4 linked regions of the Homo sapiens genome follow. The protein of the gene in region 4 purifies or fractionates together with the protein of the main gene of each other region. This does not show direct contact. Each region holds a gene or a part of one and is shown on either strand. Other genes may lie near its edges. The genes, in order: ACOX1, PAG1, OGDHL and ACBD7.

What was found.
Region 1: the proteins of ACBD7 (region 4) and ACOX1 purify together in Homo sapiens (affinity purification with mass spectrometry; 2 studies listed by BioGRID and IntAct, with this or other methods). This does not show direct contact.
Region 2: the proteins of ACBD7 (region 4) and PAG1 purify together in Homo sapiens (affinity purification with mass spectrometry; 2 studies listed by BioGRID and IntAct, with this or other methods). This does not show direct contact.
Region 3: the proteins of ACBD7 (region 4) and OGDHL purify together in Homo sapiens (affinity purification with mass spectrometry; 2 studies listed by BioGRID and IntAct, with this or other methods). This does not show direct contact.

The regions. Positions count from the first base shown.
Region 1 is NC_000017.11:75,955,157-75,962,200, reverse strand, and holds part of ACOX1 (peroxisomal acyl-coenzyme A oxidase 1), read left to right. Parts: intron 1-1,825; coding exon 1,826-1,986; intron 1,987-4,634; coding exon 4,635-4,742; intron 4,743-6,253; coding exon 6,254-6,373; intron 6,374-6,519; coding exon 6,520-6,635; intron 6,636-7,044. UniProt on the Homo sapiens protein: Involved in the initial and rate-limiting step of peroxisomal beta-oxidation of straight-chain saturated and unsaturated very-long-chain fatty acids.
Region 2 is NC_000008.11:80,976,048-80,983,091, reverse strand, and holds part of PAG1 (phosphoprotein associated with glycosphingolipid-enriched microdomains 1), read left to right. Parts: intron 1-2,597; coding exon 2,598-2,657; intron 2,658-6,185; coding exon 6,186-6,548; 3' UTR 6,549-7,044. UniProt on the Homo sapiens protein: Negatively regulates TCR (T-cell antigen receptor)-mediated signaling in T-cells and FCER1 (high affinity immunoglobulin epsilon receptor)-mediated signaling in mast cells.
Region 3 is NC_000010.11:49,734,111-49,738,337, reverse strand, and holds the end of OGDHL (2-oxoglutarate dehydrogenase-like, mitochondrial), read left to right. Parts: intron 1-75; coding exon 76-147; intron 148-265; coding exon 266-391; intron 392-479; coding exon 480-552; intron 553-1,817; coding exon 1,818-1,981; intron 1,982-2,160; coding exon 2,161-2,315; intron 2,316-2,986; coding exon 2,987-3,110; 3' UTR 3,111-3,697; downstream 3,698-4,227.
Region 4 is NC_000010.11:15,074,931-15,078,776, reverse strand, and holds the end of ACBD7 (acyl-CoA-binding domain-containing protein 7), read left to right. Parts: intron 1-23; coding exon 24-86; intron 87-173; coding exon 174-247; 3' UTR 248-3,302; downstream 3,303-3,846. UniProt on the Homo sapiens protein: Binds medium- and long-chain acyl-CoA esters.

The sequences.
Region 1 (7,044 bases), on a different chromosome or scaffold from region 4:
TTTTAATTTCTGAAATAAATTATTGGGATGAAGAGCACTGTCAGTTTTTGTATTAAAGTGTTTCAGTAGAGCGTGGCCGAATATTTGACATGATGAATCTGAATGAAATGATCAGAGCTATGTGAGGAATATGGTTCTACGCTGGATGTTTTGTGGACAAAACAGAAAAAAAATCCCAGCCTAGAAGCATTATTGAAATTGCATCGAGGAAAAACTATAATCTGGGGGTCATACTGTCACTCTGAGAGAACTACTATGTTCTGTCTCGCTTTCTCATCAGAGGAAATCCTTGTACCAGTACCACTCAAATTCTCTGTTCTCCGACTCCTGGCTTCAAGCGATTCTGCCTCAGCATCCCAAGTAGCTGGGATTACAGGCACATGCCACCACACCCAGCAAATTCTCCATTCTATACAACTTTTTTTTTTTTTTTTTTTTTTTGAGACAGAGTCTCGCTCTGTTGCCCAGGCTGGAGTGCAGTGGTGTGATCTCGGCTCACTGCAACCACCGCCTCCCAGGTTCTCCTGCCTCAGTCTCCCAAGTAGCTTGGATTACAGGCATGTGCCACCACACCTGGCTGATTTTGTATATTTAGTAGAGATGGGGTCTCACCATGTTGGTCAGGCTGGTCTTGAACTCCTGACCTCAGGTGATCCGCCCACCTTGGCCTCTCAAAGTGCTGGGATTACAGGCATGAGCCACGGTGCCCGGCCTTTTTTTTTTTTTTTTTTTTTTGTATTTTTAGTAGAAACGGGATTTCACTATGTTGGCCAGGCTGGTCTCAAACTCCTGACCTCAAGTGATCCGCCTGCGTCAGCCTCCCAAAGTGCTAGGATTACAGGCATGAGCCACCATGCCTGGCCCTATACAACTTTTCAAATTCTCTCTCTCTTTTTTTTTTTTTTTTTGAGATGGAGTCTCACTGTGTCGCCCAGGCTAGAATGCAGTGGTGTTATCTTAGCTCACTGCAACCTCTGCCTCCTGGGTTGGAGCAATTCTCCTGCCTCAGCCTCCTGAGTAGCTGGGATTACAGGTGTGCACCACCATGCCTGCTTAATTTTTGTATTTTTAGTAGAGACAGGGTTTCGCCATGTTGGCCAGGCTGGTCTTGAACTCCTGACCTCAGGTGATCCACCCACCTCGGCCTCTCAGAGTGCTGAGATTATAGGTGGGAGCCACTGCACCTGGCCAATTCTCTCTTATTTATTTATTTATTTTTTTTGAGACAGAGTCTCACTCTGTCACCCAGGCTGGAATGCAGTGGGCATGATCTCGGCTCACTGCAACCTCCGCCTCCTAGGTTCAAGCGATTTTCCTGCCTCAGGCTCCCAAATAGCTGGGACTACTGGCTGGCGCCACCACGTTCAGCTGATTTTTGTATTTTTAGTAGAGTCAGGGCTTTGCCATGTTGGCCAGGCTGGTCTCGAACTCCTGACTTAAGGTGATCTGACCGCCTTGGCCTCCCAAAGTGCTGAGATTGTAGGCATGATCCACTGCACTGGCCTCTCAAATTTTCTTTATTTCCTTTGATTTAATTCCTGGGCGAGGATCCTCTGCCTTGCACGTGTGGTTTTGTGCTGCATTGGCTTTGGAATCAGTAACCAATCCCTGTCCTCGTACTCCTTGCCGACTCAGGAAAAATGGAAATTAACAAGAGCTATAAAGTAATACAGAAAGGGACAGTGCTCCCATCTATGATTAAGTGCACGCAACTAATTCATACTTAAGGTTTTTTTGTCTCCTTCCCTTGCTCTATTTAAATTGCTGATTCTCTCACACCTGATGACTCTTCTCTCAAATGCCCATCCTTGATATTTCCTCGAAGTTTTGTGCACCGAGGGCGGCCTGAGCCTCTGGATCTTCACTTGGGCATGTTCCTGCCCACCTTGCTTCACCAGGCAACTGCGGAGCAGCAGGAGCGCTTCTTCATGCCCGCCTGGAACTTGGAGATCATTGGCACTTATGCCCAGACAGAGATGGGTCATGGTATGGAGTATTCAGTCTACCTTCTGGGTTGGGCGGGCCCCTGTGAGCTTACCATGTGTGGAGTGCCCACCATGTGCCATCGATGGTGTGTCGATGTTCTATGGTCTGTTTAAATGAGCTCTTTCTGCAGAGTCCAGGTTTTGGTATAAACACTGCTTTGGTGAGTGGGAATTAAAGACCATGATACTGATAAAATGATTGTCCTTTTTATACCATAGTTCCCCTTCAGAGGGTCAAGAATTGCAAATCAGGCCTTATTTACCAAGTGGTTTTTCAATGTTACTGAGGTTGTATAGAATCTGTGTGCATATACAACCCGAAGCTGTTTTTTTCTTCATTACTATCTGATTACCTTTACTACTGATACCTTAATGAGTACAAATTCCAGAAGAAATACAAATAATAGTTTGTGTACTCTTGGATTTGCTTGAGGGAAATGAGTAGCTTATAACTGACGTGTGTGACATTTTGGAGTTATTTGTACTTTGAGTCAATCAGTAGTTCTGCAAGTGACTTGGCTGGAGAGTGAAAAAACCAAGATAAGCCGAACTTGCAGGCATTTGGTTTCAGACTCTGTATCTCCACCTTTCATTGATCTTTCCACCCCCCACCTGCTTTCTTCATGCACCTGGGTGGGCTGGAGGTGGCCGCTGTTCCTCTTTGTATCTTCTCTGAATTGGGTCCGTGTTTGCCATTCATTTGCTTATGGCTTCTCTTTTTCTGCTCTGACGTTTCAGAAAAACTGGTCTAGTGTGTATTTGCCACTTGCTCCTTATTTCTATACAGCTGCTGCTTTTTATTTGGTGTTGAATAGTATTTTACAGGATTTTCATGAGACTCCAAGTGGAATACTATTTGTTTCAGTTGTGCTTTTGAAAACATTTTGTCCTTATCTGTTCTGTTTAATGTTATCTGCTTTTCTGTAAAAGCTGCTTCTTTGATGAAAGATGTCTGTGTCTGATTTGTTGACTCCCACTCGGGAAAGTTGTGGATTGCACATAAGTTGGTTATTCAACTTGGAAGCTTCTAAATGTTTCAAAGTGTGTTTAATGAGGTCTAAGCGTTATGAAAGCAGATTGGTAAAAGGTTCCCAACGTTTGCTTTAGTACAGTATTTTTGTAGAGACTGCCACCTAGAACATTTTTCTATGACTCTTTTCAAATAATTTTGATATATTTGTGTTAAGATTTAAAACATAAGATCCTGTCTATCCCAGTACACATAAGAAACTGGAAACTCTTCCTTGCCACATTAATGAACCAGCAGGACTAAGTTAGGCCTGCCATTGGAAATCTCTAGGGTCAACTGAGACCTTATTATTGGACCTTTAGGAATTTTTAAAAGTCACATTTCAGGTCATTTCCCCAATAACAGTTATACTTTTATACTTTTTTTTTTTTTTTTTTTGAGACGGAGTCGTGCTCTGTCGCCCAGGCTGGAGTGCAGTGGCGCGATCTCAGCTCACTGCAAGCTCCACCTTCCGGGTTCACGCCATTCTCCTGCCTCAGCCTCCCGAGTAGCTGGGACTACAGGCACCCACCACCATGCCCAGCTAATTTTTTGTATTTTTAGTAGAGACGGGGTTTCGCCGTGTTAACCAGGATGGTCTCGATCTCCTGACTTTGTGATCCGCCCGCCTTGGCCCCCCAAAGTGCTGGGATTACAGGCGTGAGCCACCGTGCCCAGCTTTAATTTTTTTGTTGTTTTTTTAGTAGAGACGGGGTTTCACCACTTTAGCCAGGATGGTCTCAATCTCCTGACCTCGTGATCCCCCCACCTCGGCCTCCCAAAGTGCTGGGATTACAGGCTTGAGCCACTGTGCCTGGCCTTTTTCTTTTTCTTTTTCTTTTTTTTTTTTTTTTGAGATGGAGTCTTGCTCTGCCACCCAGGCTGGAGTGCGGTGGCACAATCTTGGCTCACTGCAACCTCCACCTCCCGGGTTCAAGCAATTCTCCTGCCTCAGCCTCCTTAGTAGCTGGGACTACAGGCGCATGCCACAATGCCTGGCTAATTTTTTGTATTTTTAGTAGAGACGGGTTTCACCATGTTAGCCAGGATGGACTCGATCTCCTGACCTCGTGATCCACCCGCCTCGGCCTCCTAAAGTGCTGGGATTACAGGCATGAGCCACCACGCACAGCCATACATTTTTAATTTATACGAATTTTGGCTGAAATGTCTTCCTCTCACATGTTATCTCATTCTTCTCATTAGTACAGAATTCAAGAATGTTGAATTGGTGTGGTTAACACAATACATATGACTTGAAATTGGCATACTTGCAACTCAGAGATGGGTTTAAAAAGACAGTTAACATCCCTGTTAAATTCATATATTGTGATCTTAAAAATGTGATTCTAAGTTGCCTTTATATTTTCTTTCAGTTGCTGTAAATAAATGTAACAAATCAAATACAGAAATGGAACATGCATGACACTTAGATTTTCAACTTAATAGGAAACCATCAGATAGTGTGGGAAATTCAGTGTCTTGGTTATCAACCAGTTGTAGCTCATCTACAGGTGTTTTTTGTTAGATTTTGTTTTTCTCTGAGATATGAGAGTTTAAAGGACTGTGCAGGAAATTTTTCCTTGTGCCTATTTTTTTCCCCATCTCTTAACTGAAGTCAATGTAATTTATCTCCTTAGGAACTCACCTTCGAGGCTTGGAAACCACAGCCACGTATGACCCTGAAACCCAGGAGTTCATTCTCAACAGTCCTACTGTGACCTCCATTAAATGGTGGCCTGGTGGGCGTAAGTGAATTTTTCAGCATTTATTGGATGTTTTGAAGGTTTGTCATGAGATTTTGCTTAGAATGTAGAGCTTTTATGATAATGTCGGCCAGACTTGGTGGTGAAATCCTAACACTTTGGGAGGCTGAGGTGGGCAGATCACTTGAGGTCAGGAATTCAAGACCAGCCTGGTTAATATGCTGAAACCCCATCTCTACTAAAAATACAAAAATTAGCCGGGTGTGGTGGCGCACACCTGTAGTCCCAGCTACTTGGGAGGCTGAGGCAGGAGAATCACTTGAACCCGGGAAGGTTGCAATGAGCCAAGATTGCACCATTGCACTCCAGCCTGGGCATCACAGCAAGACTTTGTCTCAAAAACAACCCAACAAACAAATATATGTGTGTGTGGTGTGTGTACATAGAGGGGTGTGTGTGTGTGTATATAGACAGAGAGAGGTGTGTGTGTGTATATATATATATATATATATATATATATATATATATAGAGAGAGAGAGAGAGAGAGAGAGAGAGAGAGAGAGAGAGAGAGAGAGAGAGAGAGAGAGAGGAAAGCCAGGCATAGCGGCACATACCTATAGACCTATAGTCCTGGCTACTCAGGAGGCTGAGGTGGGAGGACCACTTGAGCCCAAGAGTTCAAGCCTGCAGTGAGCTACTATCTGTGATCATGCCACTGCACTCCAGCCTGGGTGACAGAGTGAAACCCTGTCTCTTAAAAAAAAAAAAGAAAAAAATTTAAATAGTTTTAACACAAACTTTTTTTTTTTTTTGAGATGGAGTCTCACTGTGTCACCCAGGTTGGAGTACAGTGGTGTGATCTCCGCTCACTGCAACCTCCACCTTCTGGGTTCAAGCGATTCTCCTGCCTCAGCCTCCTGAGTAGCTGGGACTACAGGAGCGTGCCACCACACCCAACTAATTTTTGTATTTTTAGTAGAGATGGGATTTCATCATGTTGGCCAGGCTGGTCTCAAACTCCTGACCTCTGGTCTGCCCGCCTCGGCCTCCCAAAGTGCTGGAATTACAGGCGCGAGCCACCGTGCCCGGCTGACCCGAAACTTTTATATCTTCTTATTCCATTCTGAGTTATTATCTTGGAATATATATTTCCAATACAGTTAGTGGTTGAAGGATTTTGTTATTCACATTATATATTTTATTTATTTATAATTTATATGTAAGAAGCCACATGTAGCTAGTGATTACTGTTTTGGACAGCACTGCCTTAAGGGATAACAAGGAAGTAGTTTAAATTAATATTCTTATTTTTATCCTAAAATTTTCTCTACGTAAATGTATGAGAAATAAGTAGAAAAGAAAGTAATAACTATTAGCTTAAGGGAATTTCTTTCTGAAAGCTAGGTGTGATGCTGTCAGCAGAAAGGCTTTCTGGACACATACTATTGGTTTAGTCTAGTGTTAGATTTAACATATTCTTTCTTCTTTTTTCTACCCTTTAAAAATGTATGAACGTTTGCCCACCCCTCCCTTGTTCTCTTTGATATTACAGTTGGAAAGACTTCAAATCATGCAATAGTTCTTGCCCAGCTCATCACTAAGGGGAAATGCTATGGATTACATGCCTTTATCGTACCTATTCGTGAAATCGGGACCCATAAGCCTTTGCCAGGTAAGAACTGTTCATCTGATGTTGAGATGAAAATGAAACTGAGCACTTTCTTCTGCAAAAGGTAGAATGCCCAACTGAAGAGGCGGAGCAAAAGCCAGAAATTCCAGAGCATAAACATCTCGTGACTGTCCTTTCATCTGTGGTAGGAATTACCGTTGGTGACATCGGCCCCAAATTTGGTTATGATGAGATAGACAATGGCTACCTCAAAATGGACAACCATCGTATTCCCAGAGAAAACATGCTGATGAAGTATGCCCAGGTATGTTTTGATAGAAAATAAAGCAGAGGCATCAAACAGTGGAGTTGAGTGGCTGTTACTCACAATAGGGTTAGAATGGTCTGTTCTTTTAGAAGGTAATAACAGCAGGGCACACTGGCATATTCCTGTTATCCCAGCACTTTGGGAGGCTGAGTGCGTGGATGACTTGAGCCCAGGAGCTCAAGATCAGTCTGGGCAACATAGTGAGAACCCATCTCTACAAAAAGTAAAAAAATCTAGCTGGGTATGGTGGCACACGTGTGTAGTCCCAGCTACTTGGGAGACTGGGGTGGGAGGATCACTTGAGCCTGGGAGGCCGAGGCTACAGTGAGCTGTGATTATGCCACCGTACTCCAGCCTAGATGACAGTGAGACCTTGTCTCAAAAAAAAAAAGGAGGCTGGGCGCAG
Region 2 (7,044 bases), on a different chromosome or scaffold from region 4:
AGAGAACCAGAGCTCGATCCTGGATGGCCTTGGCTTATAGTCTGAACACTAATAATGTCACTAGAGTCCCGAGCAGCAGAATGGCACAACCTAGCCTATGTTTTCAAAGGATCCCTCTGACTCCAGTTTTGAAATAAAGGGTAGAAGTGAGGAGAACAATTGGGTAGTGACTCTAATAAACCAGATTAGAAATGGCGGTGGCCTGGATCAGGGAAGAGGCAGCAGAGGTGATGAGAAAAGCTAAGCCAGAGCCAAGAGATTTGCGGATGGATCCTACGCTTAGTGAGATAAAGAAGAGGCAGTGATGAGTACGAGGCTGGGCCCAACATGTGGGAAAGATTGAATTGCCATTAACTGAAATGAAGAGGATACAGGCAGAGCAGGTTTTGGGGGGAGAACCAGCAGTCAGTGTTGGGTACGTTCAACTTGAGATACCGATTGGACTTCCAAGTAGAGCTTATCAGATGGTAGCTGGATTGATGAGCCGGGTAAAGAGGAAAGGCCAGGGCTGGATTTGCTGATGTGGGAGTCATCCACAGAATGTGGTTTTAAAAGTCATGAGATTGGGTGAGGTCACAGGATAGGTGAGTGTAAATAGAGCCTGGAAGAGCTCCAAGAATAGAGATCTGGAAAAGGAACCAGCAGAAGAGACCAAAGTAGGAAACAAAAACAGGAAAGTTGTGGAGTCCTGGAAGGCAGTGAAGAACGTGTCCAGGAAGGAAGGAGTGGCGGGCCGCTCTGCCAAATGCAGCGGGTAGGTCAGGGAAGGCGAGTCTCATTGGTGCCCTTGACAAGAGCAGTCTCTGTGGAATGGTAGAGGCAGAAACATGACTGAAATGGATTAGAAAGAGAATAGGAAGAGAAAAATTGTTCGGTTGACTTTTTAGACCACTCTTTAAAAGATTTTGCTATAAAGAAGTGAGACAGGCTGGGCGCAGTGACTCATGCCTGTAATCGTAACACTTTGGGAGGCCGAGGTGGGTGGATCACTTGAAACCAGGTGTTTGAAACCAGCCTGGGCAATGTAGCAGCACCCCGTCTCTACAAAAAATACAAAAATTAACTGGGCATGGTGGTATGCACCTGTAGTCCCAGCTACTTGGGAGGCTGAGGTGGGACAATGGCTTGAGCCTGGGAGGTCAAGGCTGCAGTGAGCCAAGATCACGCCACTGCATCCCAGCCTGAATGGCAGAGTGAGACGCTGTCAAAAAAAAAAAAAAAAAAAAAAAGGAAGTGAGATAATGAGTAGGTAGAATTTCGGAGTAGGACTAGGTTTGTTTTGGTTTTAGAATGAGAGAAACAACAGCATGTTTGCATGTGGCTGGGAATGATCCCACACTGGGAGAATTCCTGGCTCAGTATTCACACATAGGTATGTGGAGACAGGGTCTAGTGTGTAGGAAGGAGGGGATCACCTGAAGGAGGAACATGGAAAATCCATTTGACAGGGAGGAAAGAAAATAGATTAACGCAGAGGCTGAGGGTGGGGCTAAGAGTTGATACAAATTTCTTCTGATTCCTTCAGTTTTCTTAGCCAACTAGGAAGCAAGATCATCTGCTCAGAGTGAAGATAGGTGAGGAGGTGTTGGAAGTCTGGGGAGAAGAGGAGAAGATGCAAAGTAGACTGTGAGTTGAGCAGAGACTGAGTATACTGGGGAAGCATCGGATGATACGGAGCGGCTTTAAGGGCTCACTAGAGGGTTGAGTTCACGTATGATTGGCAGTTGACTATGGAGCTTAAGCTTAGTAAAGCAGTACAGGACACCAAGGAGAAGGGCAGACTTTGAAAGCATGAATGGGTCCCAATGGTGTTGAAGGAGCATTGGAACTGGGTTACAGAAGGAGTGAGCTTTGACAACGAGCGCTGGTCTGAAAGGGGTTGCAAGGACTTGGGCTGGTGGAGAGGCTGTGGTTTAGAAAGGCCTGGGGTGCAGCCATGAGGGTGCTGAGGCCGGGGGTGGACATGGAGAGGGGACACAGATAGAGCATAAAATCAGTGGGGGAAGGGAAAGTCAAGGAACTGAAGGGCGGGATTTAGAAGGGTACACGTTTGTTGAGGTCACCAAAAATTAAGACAAGGGATGTGTTAGAGAATCAGTAAACCAAGAGCCAAAATCCTTCAGAAATCAGGCAGGGGGCAAGACACAAAATGTGAGTCAGTTTCTCCATTAGCTTTGAAGTTTCCAAATGACTTAAGGATCTTTCTGATGACGCCAGCAAACTGTAGAAGTATAAAATTCAGGCATTTGATAAAGAAACACCATGTTTTTAAATATTAATCCTCCATGGATGATCAATCCTTCAGTGACAATTAGGAATTGAAACAGTAGTCTAAATAATTATTTTGGCTTCTTTGTACCTACAGATGCAAATACAAAATTAGAGGAAATTTCTCTAAGGATAATACTACTAGATATCCCCGAACATCATACATGTGGTAATAGATTGCATAAGTGTTTCTCTTCCCATAATTTCTTCGTGGTTCCATAAAAATCATTTGAAAACGTTGCTAGACAGATTATGAGGAAACATGTGCAAAAGAAAGGTTAGATTGTTAACGCTGAATTACTTTCCTTGGCTTGTGTTTGTTCTGACAGAGATTTAGCTCATTGTCATACAAGTCTCGGGAAGAAGACCCCACTCTCACAGAAGAAGAGGTAAGTTTTGTTTCTTTTTAAAAAGGGAAAACTGTAGTAAAGAATAGACCTTCCCCCCTTGAATAAATGCACTGTAATGTTACCCTTTGAAAGAGCTGAAATATTCTCCTATGCCTATGTTTGGAGATGAAGACTTGGGATGCTGGTTTTATAATGGCTTGGAGAGACTGACGGGCAGGCCAGACAAGAAGGATGGCAGGACAAGTAGTCAGCTCAGGAAAAGAAACTGAGCAGGAAAGCAGGGTCAGGAAAAATAGAGAGGGCAGGGGAGAAGAGTGAGAAGAGAAAAATTCCAGCGTGGGAGCAGTCAGCAGTCAGGAAGACCACATCAGAAGGAAATGAATCATGGGTTGGAAAATTCAGGAAATTAGAACAGGTGAGTGTAGGGAATTTGCTCCAGCCTGGGAGACAGAAAGAGGAAGTCTCCGTGGGGAAATTTGGATGCTGAGAGCAGATTAACTTCAGTAAGTACAGTTCCAGGCAGGAGCTAGGGTCAGACATAGCAGCCAACAAGAGCAGATCGCATATTCCCAAGCACCAGGGTGCAAAATTCACGAGTTAGATTTTCAATGAAGCATTAAAATTGTTAAAGCCAGTATTATACATATAATATGAAATATGTGTATATATACATATTTCATATGTATATATATAAATGTTGAGCTATGCTCAGAGAGCTAAACACCTTAATTGATCTAGCTGTATATAGCTTCTATCTGGAATTCCTAGCAGAGTAAATTGTGTACATGTACAAGAGCAAAGTACATATGCAGGTACATCACTTCCTATAGGACTCTGAGTAAAGCATTAGAATATGGACATAGACACCCACGTTGAATGTTCAAAGAGCAAAAATGCTTTCCCTAGGTGATATTGCCCACCCTCGTCCATGTTTCTACCTCCAGAATGGACCTGCCATCTGTCTATCTGGTTGCACAGACCAAAACCTAGGGGTCATCTCGATACTTCCTTTTCCTCACTGTCCTCCAACACAGTCAATTGCCAAGACCCATCAGTTGCACCTCCAAACTGTTTTCTTTGTGTACCCACCTCCCTCAAGCCCACTGCGGCCGCCCCTCCCTAGGCCAGAGCAGTCCCCTCCTGCTGATCCCTGGCAGCTCCTTGGCCTCCCTCCACTCTGTTTTCTACTCTGCAGCCAAAGTGATCCCATCTGGGACAAGAAGGTAAAATATATAGGAGTTCTGGGAATTAAAGACTATGTAAAATTTTAAATTGCTCCTTATCTTACATTTGTTTGTATTTTTTGAAACAGGACCTAGTTATACTGATGAATTTTTAACATGACAGAACTATGACTCACAGACATTCATTTTAGGACAAAGAGGAAAAATAAATATGAAAGTTTTTTTTGTATTTATGTAATTTAATGTTAAACAGTCCAGACTGAAGCTGAGATCTGAGCTTTAAGTTCTATTACCCCAATTTAACAGAATGTTATGGAAAGGATTGATTAGAAAAAGAAGAGAAATGGGGAAAAGGAAGAGAGTAACTTATGGGAATATAGCAACAATTTACAGACTGAGGAATAATGATGAAAGTTTTAAAGAGAAAAATTGAGAAGCTAAATAGCAAGGGGGCTGGAAGAGAAACCTGTATACAAAATAAAAATAATAGTCATAATGGTCATAGAAAACAGTCAAAAGGAATATGAGAAGACTCAAGAAGCTTTTATAAAAGTTGAAATGTACAGTGAGACCCTCTGCACACTAGGTTCATTCCCAGAGTCAATATTAAATTGCAAGTTAATGAATGAGGACAAAGGCCAAGAAGACCAAGTACTCTTACAAAGAGTGAGGGGCATTAATTACAAAGACCAGGGGGAAGAAAGCTGAGGAGAGAAGCTAACGGTGGTGAGGGGCTGACTCTCATTGTTACAATCTAGGTCAAGGTACATTTGTCCTCCTTGATGTTACCAGGTGATGAATACGCTGGTATGCCGTCTCCCCTCACCATTGTCATCCATTGTTTACCTTTTTATAATCTGTCCACATATAATTTTTGGCTTGGACCACCATTTAGATAATACATTCTGTGTTTGCACTTCCTTATAAACAGCAGTGAATTTTTTTTATTAAATTCAAAGAAATTATAATTCTTGTATTCTGAGAGCAGTTTTTTCATTAAAACCTCTAAGGTGAGAATGTTAATCATTTCATATTCATTAGGATAGTCAGATCAACATAGTAAGAGTTTTCCAAAGACTGTTTTTCTGAACTGTAAACCCTTGGATTGTCAAGGCCTCACCAAACTGAGCCAGCCACCAGCCTGTAATGAAAAGTTCTCATGCAAATGACCAGTTAGCATGTGGCAGGCCTGTCTTAAGAAGCTTTTGAGACATAAGAAGGCCTGTCTTAAGACAGGCCTGTCTTAAGAAGCTGGAAACTTCACCTGCAGTATGTGAGAAAAGTGGAAGCAGGAAAATGTCCCTCAGCCCTTGGGAAGCCAGGCATCTGTGAGGAAGCATGTTCATGTATTTCCTGGGTATTTGAATGAATCAAATCACTGTGATAAAAATAAACACAGGTAATGAAGGGTATTTTTACTTATTTCCAACCGTGATTTTTCACAATAAAATAATACTCCCCAAAAGTCTCCTAATTAGTATATTTAATCTTCACAATGAATGAAATCCCTGTTGATATCGGAGGTGATACAGGATTTATTAGTGAGACTGTGGGGGTGTGCTTGGAAAGCCACTGGCTCTTAATAGTATCCTGTAAGTTGTCATTTCTGACTTGGCTGGTTGCAAGCGAGAATGAGTTTTCCCACTGAAGAAAACTAGACCTGGACTGTCAATGTCTGTTTAACCAGTAATACGCAACTAAGTCAAGAAATAATGGACAGGAATACCCTTTCAGATATATGTGTACCACCAACGAGAATCCAGCAACGGGTGTTGGAGACCACTGTGATGCAGGAAGCATGGAGTAGTCTAATTCAGAGTTCTTATACTTTACTGGCCATCAGAATCAGCACCGGTTGCTGGGCCCCAGCCCCGAGGTTCTGATTTGGTGGTTCTGGGATGAGGCCTGAGAACTTGCCTTTCTGACAAATTCCCAGATCCTGTTGCTGCTGGTTTACAGCCCACACTTTGAGAATCACCGGTCTACTATGTGTTTTCTGTCCTTTTTTGTAAAGCAGTGGAGCCCCTTTTCAGGCAAAATATCATTCTGATAAAGAAATGAAATAAAACACATGCTGTGGTCAGGTCCCCGGGGCCTTCAGGAGCTTCCCACTCCACCTCTCCTCAAATTCCTCGGCAGACCCAAGAGAACTGGGTTTTCACGGAATTAAGGGAATATGACTGATCTAGTTAACATAGTTGAAGATAGTGTGTGTAATTATTCTCTAGTAATGTGCTCCATAATTAGTACAGATAAGAAAGAACAAATCTTTAAGGAGTACACACACAGAAACCCAGGAGTGCTCAGTATGTAGCTTGTCACTAAAAAGAGGGAGGGGGAAGTCACAGCTGGAAGTTTATTCAACTCTCCCTTTGTCTCCTAGATCTCAGCTATGTACTCATCAGTAAATAAACCTGGACAGTTAGTGAATAAATCGGGGCAGTCGCTTACAGTTCCGGAGTCCACCTACACCTCCATTCAAGGGGACCCACAGAGGTCACCCTCCTCCTGTAATGATCTCTATGCTACTGTTAAAGACTTCGAAAAAACTCCAAACAGCACACTTCCACCAGCAGGGAGGCCCAGCGAGGAGCCAGAGCCTGATTATGAAGCGATACAGACTCTCAACAGAGAGGAAGAAAAGGCCACCCTGGGGACCAATGGCCACCACGGTCTCGTCCCAAAGGAGAACGACTACGAGAGCATAAGTGACTTGCAGCAAGGCAGAGATATTACCAGGCTCTAGCAACCCAGAAGACAACCCTGGGTAGCCTGTGATCAGTGTCTGGAGACGTTTCTTCTGTGGAAGAGAAGAAGTGACACAAACCTATACTTCATATGCTGCTTTAGTCACCTGAAGATGGTTGGAGAGGCCCTGTCGACTGTTCTCCCAGTTGTTCAGTTTCTGAGACAGAGAGGTACGGACTAGGCTGCACCTGAGTGTGCCCCTGCCTGCCAGATGGACAGGTACACCCAAGCACATCTCCCTGCTGCACCCTCACCACCCACAAAAGATCCCAGCTGTCAGTGGTCTCATCTCATTAGTGAGGAAAGCCAAGCTGTATGGAAAAGCTGCACTCACCAAGGACCACAATGCCCCCGGCCTAAAGTACTGCCATTCAGAAAAGCAGGTTTTTCTTCCTCTCTTTCCTTTTCTCTGTCTGCTACTGACTTTAAGGCTTTTTCCCCCTTGAAATGTCCAGATTCCTGTGGTTCATCCCAAGGAAATTTTCACACAAAGC
Region 3 (4,227 bases), about 35 Mb from region 4:
GCCTGGGGTCCCTGCAGGGCCAGATGTCTTTCCCATGGTGGGGTCCAGCCTTGGCTGTCTGGCGTTTGCTTTCAGGGCCCAGAGCACTCGTCAGCGAGGCCCGAAAGGTTCCTGCAGATGAGCAATGATGACTCGGATGCCTACCCTGTGAGTGTTGCTGCTGTCCCCAGGACAGGGACGCGCCCTATTGTGCCCACAGGGCTAGGGGTCCAGGGTGTGGGTGCAGCAGACAGCCACCCTGGCCATATGCATCTCGTCCCCACAGGCATTCACCAAGGACTTCGAGGTGAGCCAGCTCTATGACTGCAACTGGATCGTGGTCAACTGCTCCACACCGGCCAACTACTTCCACGTGCTGCGCCGGCAGATCCTGCTGCCCTTCCGCAAGCCGGTGAGTCTCCGTCCCAGGGCAGGGGTCACAGGCAGGGGGCCTGGCCAGGCAGGGCCAGCTGGCAGCTGGGCGTGTATTTCCCTTCCAGCTGATTATCTTCACACCTAAATCTCTGCTGAGGCACCCAGAGGCCAAGTCCAGCTTTGACCAAATGGTATCCGGTACGTGCCTGGCCTGGGTGTGTGGGGTAGCCCACAATGGGGCGGTGGCCCATTGTGTGGCTTCTGCTTCTGGGGCTTCTCCAACCTCCCCTCTGCCTGTGGCTCTGCTGACCTGCAGCAGCTCCTGGCATGGTCCCACTAGCAGTAGGGTTGGGAGGTTGGCACAATGGCTGACCTGGGCCAGCTCAGGTCATGTGGGTTGCGTCCATGGTAGAGTCCACTGGGGCCCCCTTAGACCCTAGCAGGGCTGGTCGAGGCCTGGCAGAGGCCTGCTGAGTTCGCAAGATATTGAGTATCATTCATTCATTTGTCCATTTTAAAAATTCATGAGCCAAACAGACATTACAGGCCCTGGGGTCCTGGTGTCCCCTCCAGGAGTCTTTGGCCTTATTTCCCTGGGAGTCAGATCAGATAAAACACTATAGTTGCAACTGAGAGGTGACTATGTCCAGGGAAGGACAGGTGTGAGGCTGGTGGAGCAGAGCTGTCTTGGAAAATGGTCCTGGGCAGTAGAGGGAGGGCTGGGAAGGGCCTCAGCATGGACAGGGGTTGGATTTTCTCCCATGTGTGTTTGGATGTCCCCTCTGTGCAGGTGGGCAGCTGTTAGAGCTCTGATGTCGGGACTGGACTACCTGGGCTACCTGCCCTGTGCTGGCTTCTCTCTTGAGGGCCTGGGATCCATTTGTCCTCTCTACCCCAGAGTCTTCACCTGAGATGCAGGGATGTGAGGACACTACAGTAGCTTCCTGAGAGGTTTTGCAGTGTGCGTGACCTGGGGTCAGGATCATGGGCTCAGGAAGGAAGAATGGTTGGGGCTTGGAGGTGAAGCTCAGCTGCCAGGCTGAAAGAGGAGGAGCATGCAGCAGCCTCCTGGGACATCTGCTTAGTGGTGGGGGACTGCAGTGCTCTGCAGGAGGTGGGCGCAGCTGGGCAGAAGCAAGGTTGGGGCAAAGGATGATGCCATCATGTTGCCTTCTCTGTCTCCTTCAGGGCGCTTCTTATTGTACCCCCACCTCCGGTCACCTTAAACGTGATGCTTCCAGGGCTCAACCCTTGGGTGTCTCCACCCCTCTCCCTATGACAGCTCAGGGTGTCATCTGCCCCCTGCTCCATCTTTTAGTTCAAGAGGTGTCCACTGCAGCCACAAGTCCAAACCTGCAGTTAGTGTCAGTGGCTAAGGAGAGCCTGGGGATGCAGGCCTGGTCCTGAGCTGCCCCAGCCCCTCTGGGTACCAACGCCTCTGCCATGTCCTGTTGGTCCCTCAGGGACCAGCTTCCAGCGGGTGATTCCTGAAGATGGGGCCGCAGCACGGGCCCCTGAGCAGGTGCAGCGGCTCATCTTCTGCACGGGAAAGGTGTACTATGACCTGGTGAAGGAGCGGAGCAGCCAGGACCTGGAGGAGAAAGTGGCCATCACGCGCCTGGAGCAGGTGTGCCTGAACCCCTTGTACAGTCAAGTGATGGGCAAGCTCACGTCGCTGGCCCCGGCTCTGGCCAATGTGCCAGGCAGGCCAGATGAAGGCCGGTGAGGCCCTGTGCCTCCTGTCCGGGGGTGCTGGGGACATACCGCCCCTCCTCTGGCTATGCTCCTTTGTTTCTGCCTCCCCAGATCTCTCCATTCCCCTTCGACCTGATCAAGCAGGAGGCAGAGAAGTACCCAGGTGCGGAGCTGGCCTGGTGTCAGGAGGAGCACAAGAACATGGGCTACTATGACTACATCAGCCCACGCTTCATGACCATCCTGAGGCGCGCACGGCCCATATGGTACATGGTGGGGCCGCTGATTGCCCCTCACCTCGGCCCTGAGGCTCTGTCCTGGCTCCATCTGTCCCATAGGCCATGCTACCCAGAACTGGCCCTGCCCTTCTCTGGTGATGAGCAATGATGGGGCATCATCAGTACTGGCTTTGTGTTTGTTCTGCAGCCAGAACTGTATTAAGGAACCTGCTACATGTCTCAAAACTCCTGCCTTAGATCTTAGGCCGGTTATGTAGTCCTTGGAGCCTTAGTCCCTGCATCTCTACAAAGGGCGGTGATAAGATTAGATCTGATGTATGTATTAGCTCTGGCACATGGTGCGTTCCCAATACTGGCATCATGTGTTCCTGGGAAGATGGGAGAGGGTCCTGAGAAACTCCAAGAAGCCAAAAGTATGTTTGTCCCCAAAGTCTTTGAGTTGTTGCCTCATTTGTTGTCCTCATGGGCAAGTGCAGTGACATGGAGGGACAGTTTCTCCCCACTCTTCTGTGGCTAGGTGACTGAGTTTGATCCGGGCTTTGCAGCTCATTGGAAGTGGTGCCAGGGCCAAAAGGCAGGGTCTATGGCTTCGAGGTCAGCGGTTCTCAGATGCGTGCCCCCTGCAGTCCCGGAGTGAGGGCAGCGGTTGGGGGGCGGCTAGGCCCCGCCTTCCCCTTAGCTTGTCTCTCCTCCTCCAGGTATGTTGGCCGGGACCCAGCGGCTGCACCAGCCACAGGAAACAGGAACACTCACCTGGTGTCACTGAAGAAGTTTCTGGATACTGCCTTCAATCTCCAGGCCTTTGAGGGCAAGACATTTTAGAGCTGGGCAAAACCTGTGTAGGTCTCGCTGTGGGTTTGCTGGGGACCAAGGGGGTGATGAAAAGGGGAGGGGCGGAGCTCCTGCCCAGGAGAGGGGCTGTGGGGCCCCAGGATAAAACAGACACAGTGACAGGGCCAAGAGCCAGCACTGCTGGCCTTGGTGTCATGCCAGAATCTACCAGGACTGAGGGAGCCAGAGGAGTCCTATAGGCAGGCTACTGTGCTGGAGCATCCCCCAGCTGCTCCCATCTTGCTGGAATTTCTTGGGCGGCTTCTCCACCTGTATCTCAAGACAGACACCCGGGGGCCTGTGTCTGTGGCCGCTCCCATCCCGGCAGCCCTGGCTGCTGCTCGCCCCACCCTCGCTTATCTGTAGATTCAAAGCGATGTTCTCTTCTGTGCTCTTAGAAGTAGGGAGTTCAGCAGTAACAGCCAGGTGAAGCGAACCTGCTGGGTGATTTGTTTGCGCTCTGTTTTATGGGGCATTCCTGCGAGATGTGTCAGCTTCTGTGTGAAATGCAGCCACAGCTCATGTGTACCAAAGTAGAAAACCAAATCACAGAGAAATAAAAACATGCTTCAGAGAGATTTGCTGTTTTCATTTCATGTTGTAAAACTGGGGGAGGGATAGGCAGTTGAGAGAAGGTAGGGAATGGGGAGAAAGTTAAAAAAATGGAGAGAAGAAAATATCTGCCTCCATGGATATTTTTTTGAGACGGAGTTTGGCTCTTGTCACCCAGGCTGGAGTGGAGTGGTGCGATCTTGGCTCACTGCAACCTCCGCCTCCCAGATTCAAGTGATTCTCTTGCCTCAGCCTCCTGAGTAGCTGGGATTACAGGCATGCGCCACTATGCCCGGCTAATTTTTTTGTATTATTAATAGACGGGGTTTCACCATGTTGGCCAGGCTGGTCTCAAACTCCTGACCTCAAGTGATCCGCCTGCCTTGGCCTCCCAAAGTGCTGGGATGACAGGTGTGAGCCACTACGCCAGATTTTCATTTGAGCACCAGGTAGTGTCTGTTGGCTTCTCCACTCTGGCCTTTTGTGGGTTTTGCTTCCCTGTGGAGATACTGGAGAAGCTGCCACAGAGGAGGGATGTTTTGCTTGGAACAGATCA
Region 4 (3,846 bases):
TGCATGTCTCCTTCTTTTGCCAGCGTGTCCAGGAATGCTAGATTTAAAAGGCAAAGCCAAATGGGAAGCATGGAACCTCAAAAAAGGTTTTTTAGTCTTTCACAAGTTTAAAGCAAACTTTCTTAATTTCCCAGTGCACCAATCAGGGAGATAACCTGTTTGTATCTTTCTAGGGTTGTCGACGGAAGATGCGACGAGTGCCTATATTTCTAAAGCAAAGGAGCTGATAGAAAAATACGGAATTTAGAATACAGCATATGAGGAATTTTTCCTTTTGAAGACTTCCAAATGCTATCATGACCTAACATTTAGAGGGAGAGGCATACTGTTAACTTGATGTATCATGTATATTTTTGCTATTAGCATGAGCTGTAGTACTTAGAAGTATACTGAAACTACATAGTTAACTCAATTGTACTTGCTTAAACCAGGTGTCTTTAAAAGTTCTTTTTAAGAAAATGTGGCACATATACACCATGGAATACTATGGAGCCATAAAAAGGGATGAGTTCATGTCCTTTGCAGGGACATGGATGAAGCTGGAAACCATCATTCTCAGCAAACTATCACAAGATCAGAAAACCAAGCATGTTCTCACTCATAAGTGGGAGTTGAACAATGAGAACACATGGACACAGGGAAGGGAACATCACACACTGGGGCCTGTCGGGGACTAGGGGGTTAGGGGAGGGATAACATTAGGAGACATACCTGATGTAGGTGACCGGTTGATGGGTACAGCAAACCACCATGGCACATGTATACCTATGTAACAAAACTGCACGTTCTGCATATGTATCCCAGAACTTAAAGTATAAAAAAAAAAATTCTTTTAGAAAAGTATTTTTTATTTTTATAGAGTTAGGGAGTACAGTTGCAGTTTTTGTTTGTTTGTTTGTTTTTTCTTGAGGAGTCTCACTCTGTCACCCAGGCTGGAGTGCAGTCGTGTGATCTCGGTTCACTGCAACCTCCGCCTCCTGGGTTCAAGTGATTCTCTTGCCTCAGCCTCCCGAGTAGCTGGGATTACAGGTGCTTGCCACCATGGCTGGCTAATTTTTGTATTTTTAGTAGAGACGGGGTTTTGCCATGTTGGCCAGGCTGGTCTCGAACTCCTGACCTCAGGTGATCTGCCCACCTTGGCGCTGGGGTTGCAGGTGTGAGCCACCACACCTGGTCACAGGTGCAGTTTTGTTACATGGATATATTGTGTAGTGGGGAAATCTGGGCTTTTAGTGTAACCATCACCAAAATACTGTACATTGTACCCAAAAGGTAATTGCTCATCCCTCACCCCCTCCCACCTTTCCAAGCCTCCAGTGTCTATTATTCCACACTCCATGACCCTGTATACACCCTGTTTAACTCCCACTTATAAGTGAAAACATGTGGTATTTTTTTTTGTTTCTGAGGGTTCTTTAAAAATCTTTATTTTCTTATTTTTTTCTGAGTTGTTTCACTTAAGATAATAGCCTCCAGTTCCACCCACGTTGCTGCAAAAGCCGTAATTTCATTCTCTTTATATGGCTGAGTAATATCCCCTGGTATACATATACAACGTTTTCTTTATCCCATCATCTGCTGATGGATACTTAGGTTGATTCCATATCTTTGCTCTTGTGAATTGTGCTGCAATAGATATACAAGTGCAGGTATCTTTTGGATAGAATGATTTATTTTCCTTTAAGAAGATACCCAGTAGTGGGATTGCTGGGTAGAATGGTAGTTCTATTTTTAGTTCCATGAGAAATTTCCGTGCTGTTTTTCATAGAGGTTGTACTAATTTACATTCCCACCAATAGTGTATAAGCATTCCCTTTTCTCCACATCTGTTGTTTTTTGACTTTTTAGAAAGTCTAGCCCTGGTAATATGTGTACAGATTTGAACAGCTGTTTGTTCTTTTGGCTCATCTGTTCTGTTACAATAAGTTAATGTTACTGGTGAAATAAAAACAGGTTATTAAGAATCAATGGCAAGGCTGAGCGTGGTGGCTCACGCCTCTAATCTCAGCACTTTGGGAGGCCGAGGTAGGTGGATTACTGAGGTCAGAAGTTCGAGACCAGCCTGACCAACATTGCAAAACCCCATCTCTACTAAAAATACAAAAATTAGCCAGCCATTGGTGGTGCACACCTGTAATTCCAGCTACTTGGGAGGCTGAGGCAGGAGAATTGCTTTTACCCAGGAGATGGAGGTTGCAGTGAGCCAAGATCACACCACTGCACTCCAGCCTGGGCGACAAAACAAGACTCCGTCTCAAAAAAAAAAAAAAAAATTACAAGTCTGTCCATAGCAGTTTAAAGAAATTTAAAAAGCCCCCATAGGAATATCTATTTTTCTTTAAATTTTTACATTTAAGACATTTAAGACAAAAAGGCAAACTAAAATGTATCTAGTGATAAACTGTACCACTACTGTACCCCATATGTTCAGTTCTATCTGAGTAAAAATAGAGTCTGGAATATAATATTGGCCCCCTACTCAGTCTTTCTGGATGGTACACAGGCTCTTTGAAAGAAGACAGTCTCATGTTAACAATTCAAAAAATTGTTTGAGATCCCTTAAGATAAATATCCCCCAAAACAGTGTACCTCTATTCCCTGCATAAAAATTTAGATTTGGAATGGTATGACCAGAGGAATAGATCCACTTCATGTTACTACAACAACAAAACTATCTAGGTCTGCTAGATGAATTTCCAGGGAATTATGCTGAGCAGAAAAAGCCAGTCCCCAAATGTGACATGTATAATTCCATTTATATAACATTCTTTTTCTTTTCTTTTTTTTTTTTTTTTTTTTTGTTGAGACAGGCTGTCACTCTGTTACCCAGGCTGGAGCGCAGTGGCACGCTCTCGGCTCACTGCAACCTCTGCCTCCCAGGGTCAAGCAATCCTCCCATCTCAGCCTCCAGAGTAGCTGGGACTACAGGTGCGTGCAACCATGCCCAGCTAATTTTTGTATTTTTCATAGAGACAGGGTTTCACCATGTTGCCCAGGCTGGTCTGGAACTCCTGATCTGAGGTGATCTACCCACCTTGGCCCCCCAAAGTGCTGAGACTATAGGCATGAGCCACCGCGTCCAGCCAGGATTCTTGAAAGGGAACATTTATAGACGCAAAGGATGGAATAGTGGTTGCCAGGGAGGAGGGAGGTGGGTGTGGCTTTAAAAGGGCAGCAGGAGGGATGATCCTGCAGTGATGGAATGTTCTGTCTTGATTGTAGCAACACCAATATGCTGATTGTGATATTATACTATAGTTTTGCATAACAGTTACCATTAAAGGAAATTGGGTAAAAGGCTACACAAATCTCTCTGTATTATTTCTTACAAATAAAAGGGAATCTGCAGTTACCTCAAAAAGTTTACTTTTAAAAATCGAGGTTGATTTCTCATCGGGAAAATTTTGGCAATCAAGATAATTCTCATCTTTCTAAATTTCGCCTAATGATAGACGTCTTCCACGATGATACCAAGGCCTAATTCCTTCAAAGAGAAGACATCATCAATGATAGACTTGGTGTCTTACAGTTGAGGGCTTGAAAACTCCTGAAAGTTGTTCCCATGTGGACTTTACCTCCACCAGGTAGAGATGCAGGGGAAAAAGCTTACCCCCAAAGCCTGGCATTTGTTCCATCATGAAACTTCAGTTTGCAGACTATACTGACTAAACATTTTTCAAATTAATAATCACGAATCCTAATTATTATTATTATTTTTGAGACAGAGTCTCATTCTGTCGCCAAGACTGGAGTGCAGTGGCATGGTCTTGGCTCACTGCAACCTCCACCTCCCGGGTTCAAGTGATTCTCTTGCCTCAGCTTCCCTAGTAGCTGGGATTACAGGCG